Homo sapiens: one gene and its partners. The protein of the gene in region 4 purifies or fractionates together with the protein of the main gene of each other region. This does not show direct contact. Each region holds a gene or a part of one and is shown on either strand. Other genes may lie near its edges.

Evidence for each region. Proteins that work in one complex are often made in the same cells at the same time.
Region 1: the proteins of ZNF512 (region 4) and NMNAT1 purify together in Homo sapiens (affinity purification with mass spectrometry; 2 studies listed by BioGRID and IntAct, with this or other methods). This does not show direct contact.
Region 2: the proteins of ZNF512 (region 4) and WDR3 purify together in Homo sapiens (affinity purification with mass spectrometry; 2 studies listed by BioGRID and IntAct, with this or other methods). This does not show direct contact.
Region 3: the proteins of ZNF512 (region 4) and NOL8 purify together in Homo sapiens (affinity purification with mass spectrometry; 2 studies listed by BioGRID and IntAct, with this or other methods). This does not show direct contact.

Annotation. Positions count from the first base shown.
Region 1 is NC_000001.11:9,970,770-9,974,474, reverse strand, and holds part of NMNAT1 (nicotinamide/nicotinic acid mononucleotide adenylyltransferase 1), read right to left. Parts: intron 2,458-3,705; 5' UTR 2,402-2,457; coding exon 2,287-2,401; intron 1-2,286.
Region 2 is NC_000001.11:117,936,034-117,939,738, reverse strand, and holds part of WDR3 (WD repeat-containing protein 3), read right to left. Parts: intron 2,971-3,705; coding exon 2,852-2,970; intron 1,260-2,851; coding exon 1,181-1,259; intron 263-1,180; coding exon 167-262; intron 1-166. UniProt on the Homo sapiens protein: Part of the small subunit (SSU) processome, first precursor of the small eukaryotic ribosomal subunit.
Region 3 is NC_000009.12:92,304,851-92,308,555, forward strand, and holds part of NOL8 (nucleolar protein 8), read right to left. Parts: intron 2,175-3,705; coding exon 2,036-2,174; intron 981-2,035; coding exon 903-980; coding exon of another isoform or gene 899-902; exon of another isoform or gene 898-898; intron 1-897. UniProt on the Homo sapiens protein: Plays an essential role in the survival of diffuse-type gastric cancer cells. Acts as a nucleolar anchoring protein for DDX47. May be involved in regulation of gene expression at the post-transcriptional level or in ribosome biogenesis in cancer cells.
Region 4 is NC_000002.12:27,596,379-27,600,129, reverse strand, and holds part of ZNF512 (zinc finger protein 512), read right to left. Parts: intron 2,064-3,751; coding exon 1,876-2,063; intron 548-1,875; coding exon 452-547; intron 161-451; coding exon 77-160; intron 1-76. UniProt on the Homo sapiens protein: May be involved in transcriptional regulation.

The sequences.
Region 1 (3,705 bases), on a different chromosome or scaffold from region 4:
GGAGTTTGCAGTGAGCTGAGATCATGCCACTGCACTCCAGCCTGAGCGACAGAGCAAGACTCTGTCTCCAAAAAAAAAAAAAAATTAGCCAGATGTGGTGGCATGCCTGTAGTCACAGCTACTCAGGAGCCTGAGGCAGGCAGCTCACTTGAGTCCGGGAGGTAAAGGCTGCAGTGAGCTGTGATCATGCCACTGTACTCCAGCCTGCCCAGCCAGGGTGACAGAGTGAGAACCATTTCCACAAAAAAAAAAAAAAATCTGTGTATACACACAAATGTTTGCATATAAATTCATACAAAGAAGAGTGGAAGGATACACATGAAACTGTTATGGTTATGCTATGTTATGGTGGCTCATGCCTGTAATTCCAGCACTTTGGGAGGCCGACGTGGGAGGATCACTTGAGAACAGGAGTTCAAGAGCAGCCTGGTCAACATGGTGAAACCCCATTTCTACTAAAAATACAAAAATGGGCCGGGCATGGTGCTGTGTGCCTGTAATCCCAGTTACAGGGGAGGCTGAGGCAAAAGAATCGCTTGAATCCAGGAGGTGGAGGTTGCAGTGAGCCAAGACTGTGCCACTGCACTCCAGCCTGGGCGACAGAGCGAGACTCTGTAGAGTCAAGGTTTCGCCACATTGGCCAGGCTGATCTCAAACTCCTGACCTCAGGTAATCTGCCCCTTCTGCCTCTCGAAGTGCTGGGATTACAGGTATGTGCCACCACGCCCAGCCTATTCATGCATTTTTTTTTTTTTTTTTTTTTTTTTGAGATGGAGTCTCGCTCTGTCACCCAGGCTGGAGTGCAGTGGCGACATCTTGGCTCACTGCAAGCTCCGCCTCCCAGGTTCACGCCATCCTCCTGCCTCAGCCTCCCAAGTAGCTGGGACTACAGGCACCCGCCACCATGCCCGGCTAATTTTTTTGTATTTTTAGTAGAGATGGGGTTTCACCGTGTTAGCCAGGATGGTCTCAATCTCCTGACCTTGTGATCTGCCTGCCTTGGCCTCCCAAAGTGCTGGGATTCCAGGAGTAAGCCACCACGCCCAGCCTCATGCATTGTTTATGAAAACTTTTAGCTGGGTATGGTAGCTCATGCCTGTGATCCCAGCACTTTGGGAAGCCTGAGGTTGGGAGTTTGAGACCAGCCTGACCAACATGGAGAAACCCCGTCGCTACTAAAAATATAAAAAATTAGCCGGGCGTGGTGGCACATTCCTGTAATCCCAGCTACTCAGGAGGGTGAGGCAGGAGAATTGCTTGAACCCAGGAGGTGGAGGTTGCAGTGAGCCGAGATCGCGCCACTGCACTCCAGCCTGGGCAACAAGAGTGAAGTCCATCTCAAAAAAAAGAAAGAAAGAAAGAAAAAAGAAAACTTTTAAAAAGCTGTGCCTGATCCTAGAGGTTTTATGTATGCTAAAGTACAAGCTTTCGCTTTTTGCCTTAAGTAATGGGAAACTCCTAAAGAAGATTAAGCACAGGCATGACAGAATCAAATTCCTTTTTTTGGGGAGGGGTGGTCAGGGTCTTGCTCTGATGTCCAGGCTGGTGGGCAAAGGTGCAATCATGGCTCACGGTAGCCTAGACCTCCCGGGCTCAAGCAATCCTCCTACTTCAGTCTCCTGAGTAGCTGGGACCACAGGCACATGCCACCATACCTGGCTAATGTTTACAATTTTTTTTGTAGAGATGAGGTCTCTCTCTGTTTCCCAGGTTGGTCTCAAACTCCTGGCCTCAAGTGATCCTCCCACCTCGGCCTCCCAAAGCACTGGGATTACAGGTGTGAGCCACTGTACCTGGCTGTATTTTCTATTCTACAGGCCATAGCCAGATGCTCAATTCTTCCCTCATACTTCACCCTCTTTTTTGGCTAAGAATTCACTGTACAAGGGAGCAGGACAGCATGTTTGTGCCCAGTCAATGAAATGTGTATTCTGAAACAGACCCAGTCATGCCGGTTCTCTAGTATTTTTTTTTTTTTTTGAGATGGTGTCTTGCTCTGTCTCCAGGCTGGAGTGCAGTGCAGCAATCTCAGCTCACTGCAACCTCCGCCTCCCGGGTTCAAGCGATTCTACTGCCTCAGCCTCCCGAGTAGCTAGGACTACAGGCACAGTGAATTTTCGTATTTTTTAGTAGAGACAGGGTTTTACCATGTTGGCTAGGATGGTCTCGATCTCTTGACCTTGTGATCTGCCCGTCTCAGCCTCCCAAAATGCTGGGATTGCAGGTGTGAGCCACTGCACCCGGCTGGTTCTCTAGTCTTAAGCCACTTTTGGTTACTGCTCCTACCTGTTCCATTCATGTAGTCCTTGGCCAGCTCAAACAACCTGAGGTGCATGTTGGTGATGGGATTGAATGAACCACAAGCAAGGAGAACCACTTCAGTCTTCTCGGAATTTTCCATGGTAAGAACTTGAAGTTGTTGATCTAAATGGAAAACTGTGACACCTCCCTTGTTGTCTACAAAGGAAAAAGAAAATAAATTCAGTTATGCATTTTTTTTTCCCTAAGATAAGGTCTTGCTCTGCCACCCTGGCTAGAGTGTAGTGATGCAACCACAGCTGACTGCACCCTCAAACTTCTGGGCTCAAGTGATGCTCCCACCTCAGCCTCTCAAGTAGCTGGGAACACAGGCACATACCAATAGGCTGGCTAATTATTTTAAAGACTAATTTTTGTAGAGATGGGGGTCTTGCTATGTTGCCCAGGCTGCTCTCAGACTACTGGTCTCAAGCAACCCTTCCACCTCAGTCTCTCAAAGTGCTGGGATTACAAGCATGAGTCACCACGCCCAGCCCAGTTATAGGTCTTTTGATGTCCTTCCACATTCTCATTCCCAATAGATGGATTAAAAGTATTTGGCTTTGGCTGGGCGTGGTGGCTCACACATGTAATCCCAGCACTTTGGGAGGCTGGGGCGGGTGGATCATGAGGTCAAGAGATCAAGACCATCCTGGCCAACATGGTAAAACCTCGTCTTTACAAAAAATACAAAAATTAGCTGGGTGTGGTGACAGGCACCTGTAATCCCAGCTACTTGGGAGGCTGAGGCAGGAGAATCACTTGAACCCAGGAGGCGGAGGTTGCAGTGAGCCGAGACTGTGCCACTGCACTCCAGCCTGGCGACAGAGAGAGACTCCATCTCAAAAAGAAAAAAAAAATTGGCTTCAATCATTATGCTAACTCTAAAAATGTTTCCACATCTCCATCCCTCCTTTTCAATGTGAATCTGCAACTTCTACCATGAAGAGATGGAAGTGACTTCTCCACATTTTTTGACTTGCTTTGGGCAAAAGAATGTGGCACAAGTGTTAGTGTGGAGGATGCCAGAACATGTGGGAGAGCACCGATGCTCCCACTGATAGACAACCACCCCACATGTGGGGAACATAGCCATCCCCGACCAGCCAACTACAGTCCATCTGCTCAGACACATAAGCAAACCCAAGTGAGATCAACCAAACCTGGCTCAGATCGTCAAGCCAACAAGCTGACCCTAGTCTCAAAAACAAAAAATTAGTGTTCATTATCATATGTCACTCAAGTTTTGTGATTGCACTATTGTGGCCACAGTTAATTAATACAACAATATTATCATCTACCAAATACAGCATTTTTGCCTTTTAGTCAACATGATAGTAACATCATAACTTTCCACTAAATAATAGAATATAATTTACAAACCTCTTTTTCATATCAGTTATTCCA
Region 2 (3,705 bases), on a different chromosome or scaffold from region 4:
TAATGAGCATATAAGGAAGAAAAGCTTTTTTAAGTGTTGCAGGTTATTGGTGTGATAGAATTCCTTCTAATATGATGTGAAGTACTGAATAATTACATCTGATTCTAAATCCAAGGTGCTTATGAAACTTCTAAACATATTGCCCATGATTTTAAGAAGTAATTACCTCTTGCAGATAAGCTATGTCCCATACCCTCAGTTCACTGTCTGAGGCCCCAGTGATGAGTCGCTTTTCTTCTGACAACAGAACCAACCCCCATACCTATAGAATATAAAAAGATTTGAGTAATACGATTTTCAAGAGATTCCAGGTAGCATAATATGACATTCCAAAAGTCTGTTACACCGTAGTAAAATGTCTAGCAATTTAAAGGCAAAGAAAAGGCATATCGACAACCCTTTCAAAATGCACTAAGAGAAGTCTCACTTTTACAGAGAAAAAAATGGCCTGCGGTGAAATTGTTACTTTTGTGATACTAGCAGTTTGTCTCTAACCTCGTATAATCAAATTAAGATAATGGCTGTTCAGCATAAATCTTAACTAGAATCCACTCAAATGATGATTTTAAGTCTTCTATTTCTTTGCTTTTAGCAGTGTCTAGCAAATAAAAGGTGCCCCACTAATGTCCATTGCATAACTTTCAGCTTCAAGTATCCGGGAATTAAATAATGAAAATAATATTGTTGCAAATCAACAAAGAATTTAATCTTCTTGTCATTAATTCTAGGTATTACCTTCCTGAATGCCTGATATGAATAAAGCACTGAGGATGCAAAGATATATAAAAAACAGTCCCTGAACTCAACTGAATAGATCTCTGTTCAAGTAACTATTTTAACAGCTACCACGTGCTGCTTACCTGTCAATAAGCTAGGTGCTGCACATATAATATCATTAAACTTCCCTACATTCATAAAAGTGGACACTTATTATTTAGAAATGATGAAACTCAGGAATTAAAAACCACGCAAGGCCAATTTTTACTACATGTCAGAGCAGCAGTATCTGCTCCAATGGCTGGCATTGCTTCCATCATACCAGCCTCACTGTCCCTCAAGATGGCATATGATAATTACTGTGTGCACTAAAAACAAAGAGCCATGAAAGGGGAAGAGAAGACCACCACCTTTTCCCTTTTGCCTTCCCATTATTTCCCTGGGCCCATGACCCTACACTTACCTCAGTCCGGTGGCCAACCATTGTTTTAAAGCAGTGCTGAGTATCAAGGTCCCACCATTTCACCATGGTATCTTTCCCACTAAAAGAAGAAACAGGAAAAAAATATATAGCCTGTTTAGGAAAACTCATTCAACGAATAGGGAGATCCAAAACTCACTGTTGCTTTAAAAGGAACATATGCTTCAATAATGTCTAAAGCTCCGATTCTCTCTGATCTTACTTTTGAAAAGCAAAGAATCCTAACTTTCCTTGTAGTTATTCCTGTGCAGAAAATAAAATGTTCCACCTATAAGCACAAGAATGACTTTAGATGCAGAGTACCAAAGAATACAGAATTTGATCCATCAGGCCTTCCTCCTATCATTTCCATCATCACAGCACTGGCATTCCCCTCAGACAGTCTACCATGGAAACATCTTAGACCGCTCCCACTCCCTTGTCTTCCTGTCCAGTTAGTCTCTTGTCCTGAAAATGCCTCCTCTGTGAAGTTTCTAAGTATTAACTCCTCTAGTCCATTTCTGTACACTAACCTGAACTTAAGTCCTACTACCTGGATTATTTTAACAGCTTCTCATTTGGTCTCTTTGTCCATTGCTGTTCTCTCATCCCATCCAATGTGCAACTGTCAGATAACCTTAATTTTTAATATTTGCACTAGCTCAATGTTCCCTGTAGAATCAAAGTCAGGCTCATTGGCAGCAGTCTCAAAATTTCCTATTTATTTGTTCTTAACCCCCTAAATATAACCTCTCGCAGCCAATGGCCTCTACTACTCCTGCTCAAACACCTCTTCCCTACCTCCTCACTACATAAATCTAATATAATCCTCCTTCATGAGCAAACTGGAAAAAAACACCGCTCAAAAACCTGATTTACAAAGTCCGTCCCATATAACCCCACCTTACAGTGTTATTTCTTTGCCTTTATATTCCCTAAGCTGTAATATATATTTTTTCTATTAGAACTATAGAATCATTCTCTTACAGAACCTGTGTTATCTGAACAAGACACTAATTTACCTGTATCCTATCCCACAGAAACAAATCCACCATTGGTAAAGCATTTAGTGCTCACAGCTTTTTCTGAGTCATTACTATGGTTCCTCTAATTAATGCCTGGCAAACCTTGGTATCCCAGCTTTTCCTAGGTGGCCATTCTTTAGGAATATTCATTATTATATTAGGTTGAACAATATAAAATTGTTGATATTTGATGATTTTTTATGTACACAAATAAAAATTTCAAATGGTTCATCCTAATAGGTGTTCAGAAGGCCTATGAAGTACAGTACATCTCTCCTCAAAAGGCAAGCCGAATTTAACACCTGGTATTCATATCTTCCCTCTGCTCCATATTCTGATTCCTGGCTTTCTAGAGATCTAGAAGGTAGACAAAGCTCATTCTATAATGAGTTTCAAAAGGCTAAGAAACACAGAAAAACTGATATCAAGAAAAAAGAATGACAAATTAGAAAAATGATTTTAAAAATAATATAGCTTTGGATAGCTCTACGATACTACTTAGAAGAAATGGAAAGAAGGAATGCAGGAGAACAGGAGAGAAAACTAATGCATAAGCATGAGCACACTGCTCATGAGAGAAATGAGTAAGGAATAAAGCAAATTCTCTCTTCCTAGAAAATAACTGGAAATTAAACCATTATTTCTTTACCTAGTAACTAGCAGGTTCTTTTCTCGTAGAAACAATGCTTGTGTGATGGCATCCTTGTGCCCCTTTAGACGGTACAGACCACTTTCATTGATCACATCCCATACAATAATATCTGTGTCCTAAAGGGATCAAATAATACAGATGAAAAATAATTTTCTTTACCATATATGGCCCAACTTGACAAACAATGAGACTTAATTATTAAAAAGGCAATACACAGTCCTTACAGAAAATTTGGAAAGCATGGGGAAAGTACAGGGGAATAAACACCAGCCTTATTCTCACCAACCAGAAATAATCCCCAGACATTGTTATTGCTCTAGTCTTTATGTATAATCCAGGTTATTTTCCTATTAGAAGACTAAAATCATGCCATTCATATCATTTTACAACCTTTTCTTTATTCATTTAATATTATTTCCATTTCTTCCATGTTATTCCAGAGTGTTCACATTTTTAATGCTCACATAATAATCAATTCTAAAGTAATAGCACAACTTATTTAAAAATTTTTCTGTTTCAGACATTTAGTTTCCAACCTTCTGCTGTTATAAATATGCAGAAGTGAACATTCTTATATACAAATTTCTGTATGTATCTCTGATTAGAAAAAACTAAAATGAAAAGCTCTTGGGTTATATGATATGTTTATTTTTAAAGTTTTGGATTCATACTATCAAAATGATCTCCAGGTTGGGTAAATCTATAGAACCAGCAGGGATATGTATGACAAGGCCTGTTCCCCATTCATTTAACTCTATTATTAGTTTTCTCAAAAACTACTACAAATATCATAAGTAAAAAATGTTCAGTCTTAATATTTATTTTAATTTACATTTTTTATGAATACAAAT
Region 3 (3,705 bases), on a different chromosome or scaffold from region 4:
CAAATTGTCCTGTTGTTTCAAGATTCAATTCAGGATACCACACTGCCTTTTGTGATTTTCGTGGCTATTAGCAGTTGGAAAATGAAGGATTTAAACCAAGCTGCTACTGGTTGCTCCATATATTTGCCATGTTTATCCAACTGACTGCACATCTATAGGAAACAGAAGCTCCTACCACACTAGATGGTTGAATGGTTGCCCCCCAAAAGCTATGTCCATGTCCTAATTCCTGAAACCTGTGAATGTTAACATTATTTAGATAAGGGGTCTTGCAGAGATATTAAGTTAAGGGTCCTAGGATGAGGAGCCCATCCAGGATTATCCAAGTGGGCCCTGAATGCTATCACAAGTGTCCTTATAAGAGGCACAAAGAGGAGAGACAGAAAAGAAGAGGCCATGTGAAGATAGAGGCAGAAATGGGAGTAATGTAGTCTCAAGCCAAGGAACACCAAAGGATTGGTGGCAGTCACTAGAAACTAGGAGAGGCATAAAACAGCTTTGTTTCCCTGAACCTCTAGAAGGAACATAACCTGTTCACTATCTTAATTTGGGACTTCTAGGTTCCAGAACTGTAAAGAAATAATTTTTGTGATTTTAAGTAACTAAGTTTGTGGTAGCTACAGAAGACACAAGAAACTAGTACAAATAAAAGGCATCATTTATACAAATAAAAGGTATAAATGATAGGAGTACATATCATTTATAGATTCCTCTGTTAAAAGGTAAGACCTCCTCCACCACATCAATAATTCCTTTCTAACTCTACCTGCACTACCCCTACCCCACCAATCTTAATACAGTGGGACCAATGAGTAGGATATTGGTTCCTACCTACATTTTTAATTGTCTGAAATGAGATTAATTTACATGATCCTATTGCTAAAAGAAGTAGCTCTACTTACCTTTCTTTTGGCTTATCATCTCTTTTTCTTTCGTAAGTGGCATGGTCTTGCTTCGTTGGATCATAATGTATGATGTCCCTATGTAAAAAAAGGAAGGGAGGTTGGAAGAGATAAAAACAGAACACTAATACAAAAAGTAAGTAGCAAATTATAATTCAGCACTAGGAAGATTCTAATTTTGCAGCAAGAAGAAGCCATATAACATCAGATAAGATAACTAGGATCTTACTAGAAATAACATATACATAGATTTTTCTTGGAGACAGAGTCTCGCTGTGTTGCCCAGGCTGGAGTGCAATGGCGTGATCTTGGCTCACTGCAACCTCCGCCTCCCAAGTTCAAGCGATTCTCCTGCCTCAGCCTCCCAAGTAGCTGGGATTACAGGCATGTGCCACCATGCCCGGCTAATTTTTATATTTTTAGTAGAGACGGGGTTTCACCATGTTGGCCAGGCTGCTCTCCAACTCCTGATCTCAGGTGATCCGCCCACCTTAGCCTCCCAAAGTGCTAGGATCACAGGTGTGAGCCACCATGCCCAGCCGAAAAAATATTTTAAACTACCTACTTTTGAGATTTCCTGGATTTTTTTAGCTTTTAAAATGATTTTAAACATACTAAAATACATACAGATAAAATGATATACTATCTGGGATTTGCATAAAACATTTCATTGTGTAAAGTAGGGGTTGGATAAAGGTATAGAAGAGAACACTGGTCACATGTTGGTGACTGTAAAAGCTAGGTGATGGTGTACAGGGCTTTCATTACCTGGTGTACAGGTAATGATGGTATACAGGGCTTTCATTAGTCTCTCTAAATTTCATGCCTGAAAATTTCCATAACAGTTACGTTTATATAAATACTTTTACAGTTACTATTTAAACTGTTTCCCATTTGTTTCACTAATGAAAGCGATGCTGCTATGACATCTAAGTGTATAAATACAGAAATAATTTAAGATTAGTTCCTTGAAGTGAATCACTGGGTCAAAGGCAAGTATATTTTTAAGGGTCTGATACATATTGCCAGCTGCCTCCCCAGGCCATTAAAAGAGACCTAGTTTTAAATTGAGTTCAAGAAGACATTTATGGCAAAGGATGATATGGTAGAATGGGATGGAACATAAAACATACTTAAATTTCTTAGCAGCTACTGATCCTCTGTTTGTAGAATTGCTTAAGTTGATTTGCAAAACACTTTGTACAACATTCAGGGCTTTCTTTTTTTCTTCAGCAAGCTCTTCTTCCTCAGCAGTTTTCTTTTCATTTACCTCTTTGAGGAAAAGGGATAATTAATACTCTCTTGGAAAACACAGCCTGAGAAGTCTCAATCATCAAATATTTACCAAGTACCTAAACATGTTCAAAATCCATTAAGACAGGAAGAAGAAACTTTAACCTCATTTCACTAACCTCCATAACCAAAGACCCTCAGTCATAGCAAACTCAGAAAGTCTGCGTGACCAGACAATGAAAAGTCCTACTTCTGTTCCTAATTATGAAAGTCTGAATTTAATGGCTTTCAGTAGCAAGTCTAAAACTTTTAAGGTAAAGATCGACAAATGTAATAGAGCAAGATACTAATAACTACAGTGATTATAGACTCTTTGATTTTTTTAACATTCTAAACATAATCTAAATTACGTAAATCTAAAAATGATAAAGAGTGAAAAATGGTAATGGTATATCTGACAATATAAGATATTAGTGGATAGTTGTTTCAGTCTTTGATTCAATAACAAGTATTATGGGAAAAAAACCATATGCCCTACACATACTAAGGCATCATGGACTTTTACAAGCTACTATCCTCAACTACTACAAACAGACAAAATATCACAGAATAAAGTTAAACAGCTAGTTTGGATTACAGAAATACAAAAGTAGTCTAAGCCTGTATGACTCTTTCAACTTACTGCAGGATATAAATAACCAACTAACAGAAACTAGAATAAAATGCTAATTTAAGTACTCTACAGGGATGCCCCCAAAGTTTCTAAGGGTTCAAAGGAAGTTGAGATAGTGTTTAACTGAATCAAAAGATGCTTTATAAACTAGGTAAAGTTATGAGGTAGGAAAGATAGAGTTGAATCCCTAGAGGTGGTAGGAAAGCATGCTAGGTGTTGGAAACAAAACGAACACATATATTGAAATAATAAAGTACAAAAAGTTTACACTGCATTAGGTTGAAACTGCTAATTTCAACAACTTTTGACTATCAAAAACATCAATTTAAATTTTAATCTAATAAGCATTAGGGAAGTAGATTATAATGCTGAAAAAGGCTCAAGGTGATATAGGCTGGCTGTGCTGCTTACTTGAGACAAAACGTTGTGCCTCAAAATTTGGGAAGGGGTCTGGTGCAGTGGTTCCATGCCTATAATCTCAGCACTTTGGGAAGCTGAGGCAGGAGGATCACTTGAGGCCAGGAGTTTGAGACCCGCCTAGGCAACACAGCGAGACCCTGTCTCTATGAAAATACAAAAATTAGCTGGACATGGTGGCACATGCCTGTAGTCCTAGCTACTAGAGAGACTGAGTTTGAGGTTACAGTAAGCTATGACTGTGCCACTGCACTCCAGCCTGAGGAACACAGTGAGATCCTGTCTCCAAAAAAATAAAAATAAAATGTTGAGAAGGAAAGAAAAAAACAACAACAGAGATTCTAAGAATGGACACGCCATCAACGCAGAAAGGTTAAGAAGAGCTGGTTTGGACTTGCTGAGTTTTAACACAAACTCAGGAAAGCCTGTGGAAAATATCCAACAGGCGTTTAAGACCAGTTGGGAGCTCAGCAGAACAGC
Region 4 (3,751 bases):
TTCCTTCACAGACAACACCAACAACAAATCAGAGTGTGAGAACTACATCCCTCAAAACTTCCAAAAGAAAACATACCTGCTGCATAAACTGGTGGTTCCTTCCGAATACGACGGGCCTGGGATTTGGGATTGGGCTGAGTTTTAGGCCGTTGCTTCCTCCCTGACATAAGACAGAAACTTGAAGCCCAGCATGTCACCCTTGCTAATACCAAAATCTCTTCCCTCTCCTCCTCTTCAACACCCTATTTCCCAGTCCCTCAACCGACTGACTGCCTAAGTCAGGACAGAATGAAAGGGTATAATGAGGCAGGATGGAGGCCATTCCCTCCCAAACAATTCAAAGGGCTCAGAGGTCACTGAAGGGCTCAAACTAAGGCTTCTCTTTCCTTTACCCTCAAAGAATAAAGCTCAGTCACCCAAGGAAAAAGAAGTAGCAAAGTTACTGCCTTACCATAAAGCTTATGCTTCTTCTGAGGAAATTCTCGATAGTCTTCATCTTCTTCCTGCCTGGGTTTCCTTTTCCCCTTGGCTGATACTCCACCTGACCCTGAAGTACCATACAAAAACAAAACAAAAACTCAGCACACTTTGTAAATGAACATCTAGGCCTGTCTTCAAAACATCATTCACAAGACCATCAAAAGGAAAGATCATCAGTGAACACAGGCCTCAGAGAAATGTCTGTGACATTTTTAGAGAAGTTGGTGTAACTTCTCATTAACTGACCCACTCTCCCTTTCTTTTTATATTGTTATCTATTCCAAATCATCCATTGTTCCTTATGAATAATAAGGGCATTCAAGCAATGTGTTTTGCTTAATCTTGACTTGAGGCTAACAAGAGGATAAGAATTGCTCAAGATAGAGGGCTAGCCACCAAGGACCCTTGAGATTGTGACGATCCAGAATATTCTCCCCTGAATAATCCTTACACCAGCCCCTAAATCATCAACAGAGGATCACACTAGAAGAAAAGGGGGGCCAGCCATGGTGACTCACATCTGTAATCCCAGCACTTTGAGATTACAGACTTTGGCCAAAGTGGGCGGATTACCTGAGGTCAGGAGTTCAAGACCAGCCTGACCAACATGGAGAAACCCCGTCTCTGCTAAAAATACAAAATTAGCCAGGTGTGGTGGCACATGCCTGTAATCCCAGCTACTCAGCTGGCATTACAAGCTGAGGCAGGAGAATCGCTTGAACCCAGGAGAAGGAGGGTGCGGTGAGCCTGAGCTCGAGTCATTGCACTCTAGTCTGGGCAAGAAGAGTGAAACTCCGTCTCAAAAAAAAAAGAAGAAGAAAAGGGGAATTCAAATACTACAAAGAGGAAAATCAAATGCTAAATATAATCTAGAGGAGTAAGATTAGCAGAATTTCACTCTATCACATAGCAGTTCATGAAGCTAATGGGACAGGATGCAATTGCCTAACACCTTAAATTTTTTTAAATCACTAATGAGAAACAAATATGTGGCATTTCATACTCTTTTTTTTTTTTTTTTGAGACGGAGTCTCGCTCTTTCGCCCAGGCTACAGTGCAATGGTGCGATCTCTGCTCAGTGCAACCTCTGCCTCCCAGGTTCATGCCATTCTCCTGCCTCAGCCTCCTGAGTAGCTGGGACTACAGGCGCCCACCACCAGGCCCCGCTAATTTTTTGTATTTTTAGTAGAGACGGGGTTTCACCATGTTAGCCAGGATGGTCTCGATCTCCTGACCTTGTGATCCGCCCGCCTCGACCTCCCAAAGTGCTGGGATTACAGGCGTGAGCCACCACGCTCAGCCGCCATTTAATACTTTTAAGAGGTATTTATAACAATCTCAAACTATAACTTTAGGAAGTGGCCCGTCTTCAGAATAAGACACTGATATTGATACCTTCGACATGAGAAGTAGCAGCTGGCTTGATTCTTCTCATCTTCATCCAGTAGGTAGATTTTCGGAAAGATGCTGGAAAATCACTCACTGGTTCACACGAAGATGCAGACGATGAACCACTTAAGGAGTCATCATGAGGGATAGTGTACTGGAAACTATTATCCTTTATGGAGCACTGGGTCCTGCTACTAATACAACATAAAAATATATACCACAAAGGAAGGTCTGGAGCAAAATTTCTATACATTCTTTTACATTATAACCAAGTTGGTTACCTCTGCAGAAAACTAAGAAGCCTGCTATAAAAACAGAATGTAAGTTGTAATCACCTAACAATAACAATAGTTGATCTAACACAACATGTACAATTATTATCACACTTCATTGTAATAAGAGTAAGCAGTACACATAAATGATCACTTTGCAGCCCAAGTAGACATTCCTTCCTAGATTCATCTAATAAAAGAAAGTAGGTGAAGCAATAAAGGTGTTCTATGACCCTTCAGAAGACTCCCTGGATTTGTAACCTGGTATGTCCCAGCCTCTCTCTTTCTCTGACAGAGGGATGGCAACTAAAGGGTATCTCTAAGGGAAAGGAATAGTCTGTGGGCCCTAATCTGACTCATCTTCCTTCTGCCTCAGCATTCTCCCTAAAACCTGATGCCCTATCTTATTTAGGCAACATGATACTTAGCTTCCACAGCTAAAGGATGGATGCTATCTTGCATGAATTAACCTGGCCAGAGATTTCTGGTATACAGCTGAATCCAGATTCCAAAATCTAAGACCAGTCAGTATGACAGCTAAAAAACATTACTCTGTAACTACAAAGCATCAGACATTCTTCTAGGTGGCTCAAGATGCAGCAGAGCAGCAGTTCTCCAAGAGTGGTCAATGGACTCCTAGAACCTCCCTTTTCCAGCTAAATACCTGTGAGGCCTACTTTAGATTTATGGTTCAGAAAGATCCTTCTGGCTGCTCTATGGAGACAGCCCATGGGAGAAAGAGTAAACAAAAGGAAAAAAGTTAACTTGAATTGGCAGATTCAAGGTAACACTTTAGATGTAGAGCTAATAAGAATTACACATAGAGAGGTTTGCTTATGACATCAGGGAGTTGGAAGTAACACAGTGACCATCCTTGCAAAATGTGATAGATGCCTACTATGGAATACTGTGCTGCTGTTAGAAGCAATAAACTAATTCTACACATAGAGACACGACCATAACTAAAAAGTATATTGTTGAATGAAAAAAGAAACAAAACAGTATCTCTAGCACAATGTCAGTTCAGCAAGCTAAAAACAAATCCACACATAAAGCAGCTTATTTTAAAGCTTATTTTTTAAAGGAGTCATAAATATTTAAGTGCAAACATCACACTTGTTTATACAGTTTCCTCTAGGAGGGAGGGGATGGAAATGGGGATGAGTAAACATAACAGAGACTGGTTATGTCAGTATGTTACAAATAGGGAAGAATGAGTTTCGGCTCTCCACACATGAGGTCCAATAACACAAATTTAATACACAGAAGTCCTGGCTCTGGAGGGGCAGCTAAGCCCACTAAGGCCCACCCCTCCTGCTCACTGGACTCTGTAAAACAAACAAAAACAAGTAAATTATGCAGGGGAGTCAAAGTTGGGAGAAGTGCCCCAAATGGGGTGAGTTTTCCAATTCTGTCTTTTTCCCTCAAGTAAGAATTTGCAATGAGGATGAACCCCACTTGCAGAGCAGCATAGGCAGCTTTAATTCTAGAAACTCCCTTCTTTCTTACCAGGTAAATCAGGAAAAAAGGTCCCTGTGGACCAGAGTTGGGGGACTGGGGGTGGGAGGAATGCTAGAGAGAAAACAGGCAAAAAAAAGAATCTCTTAATT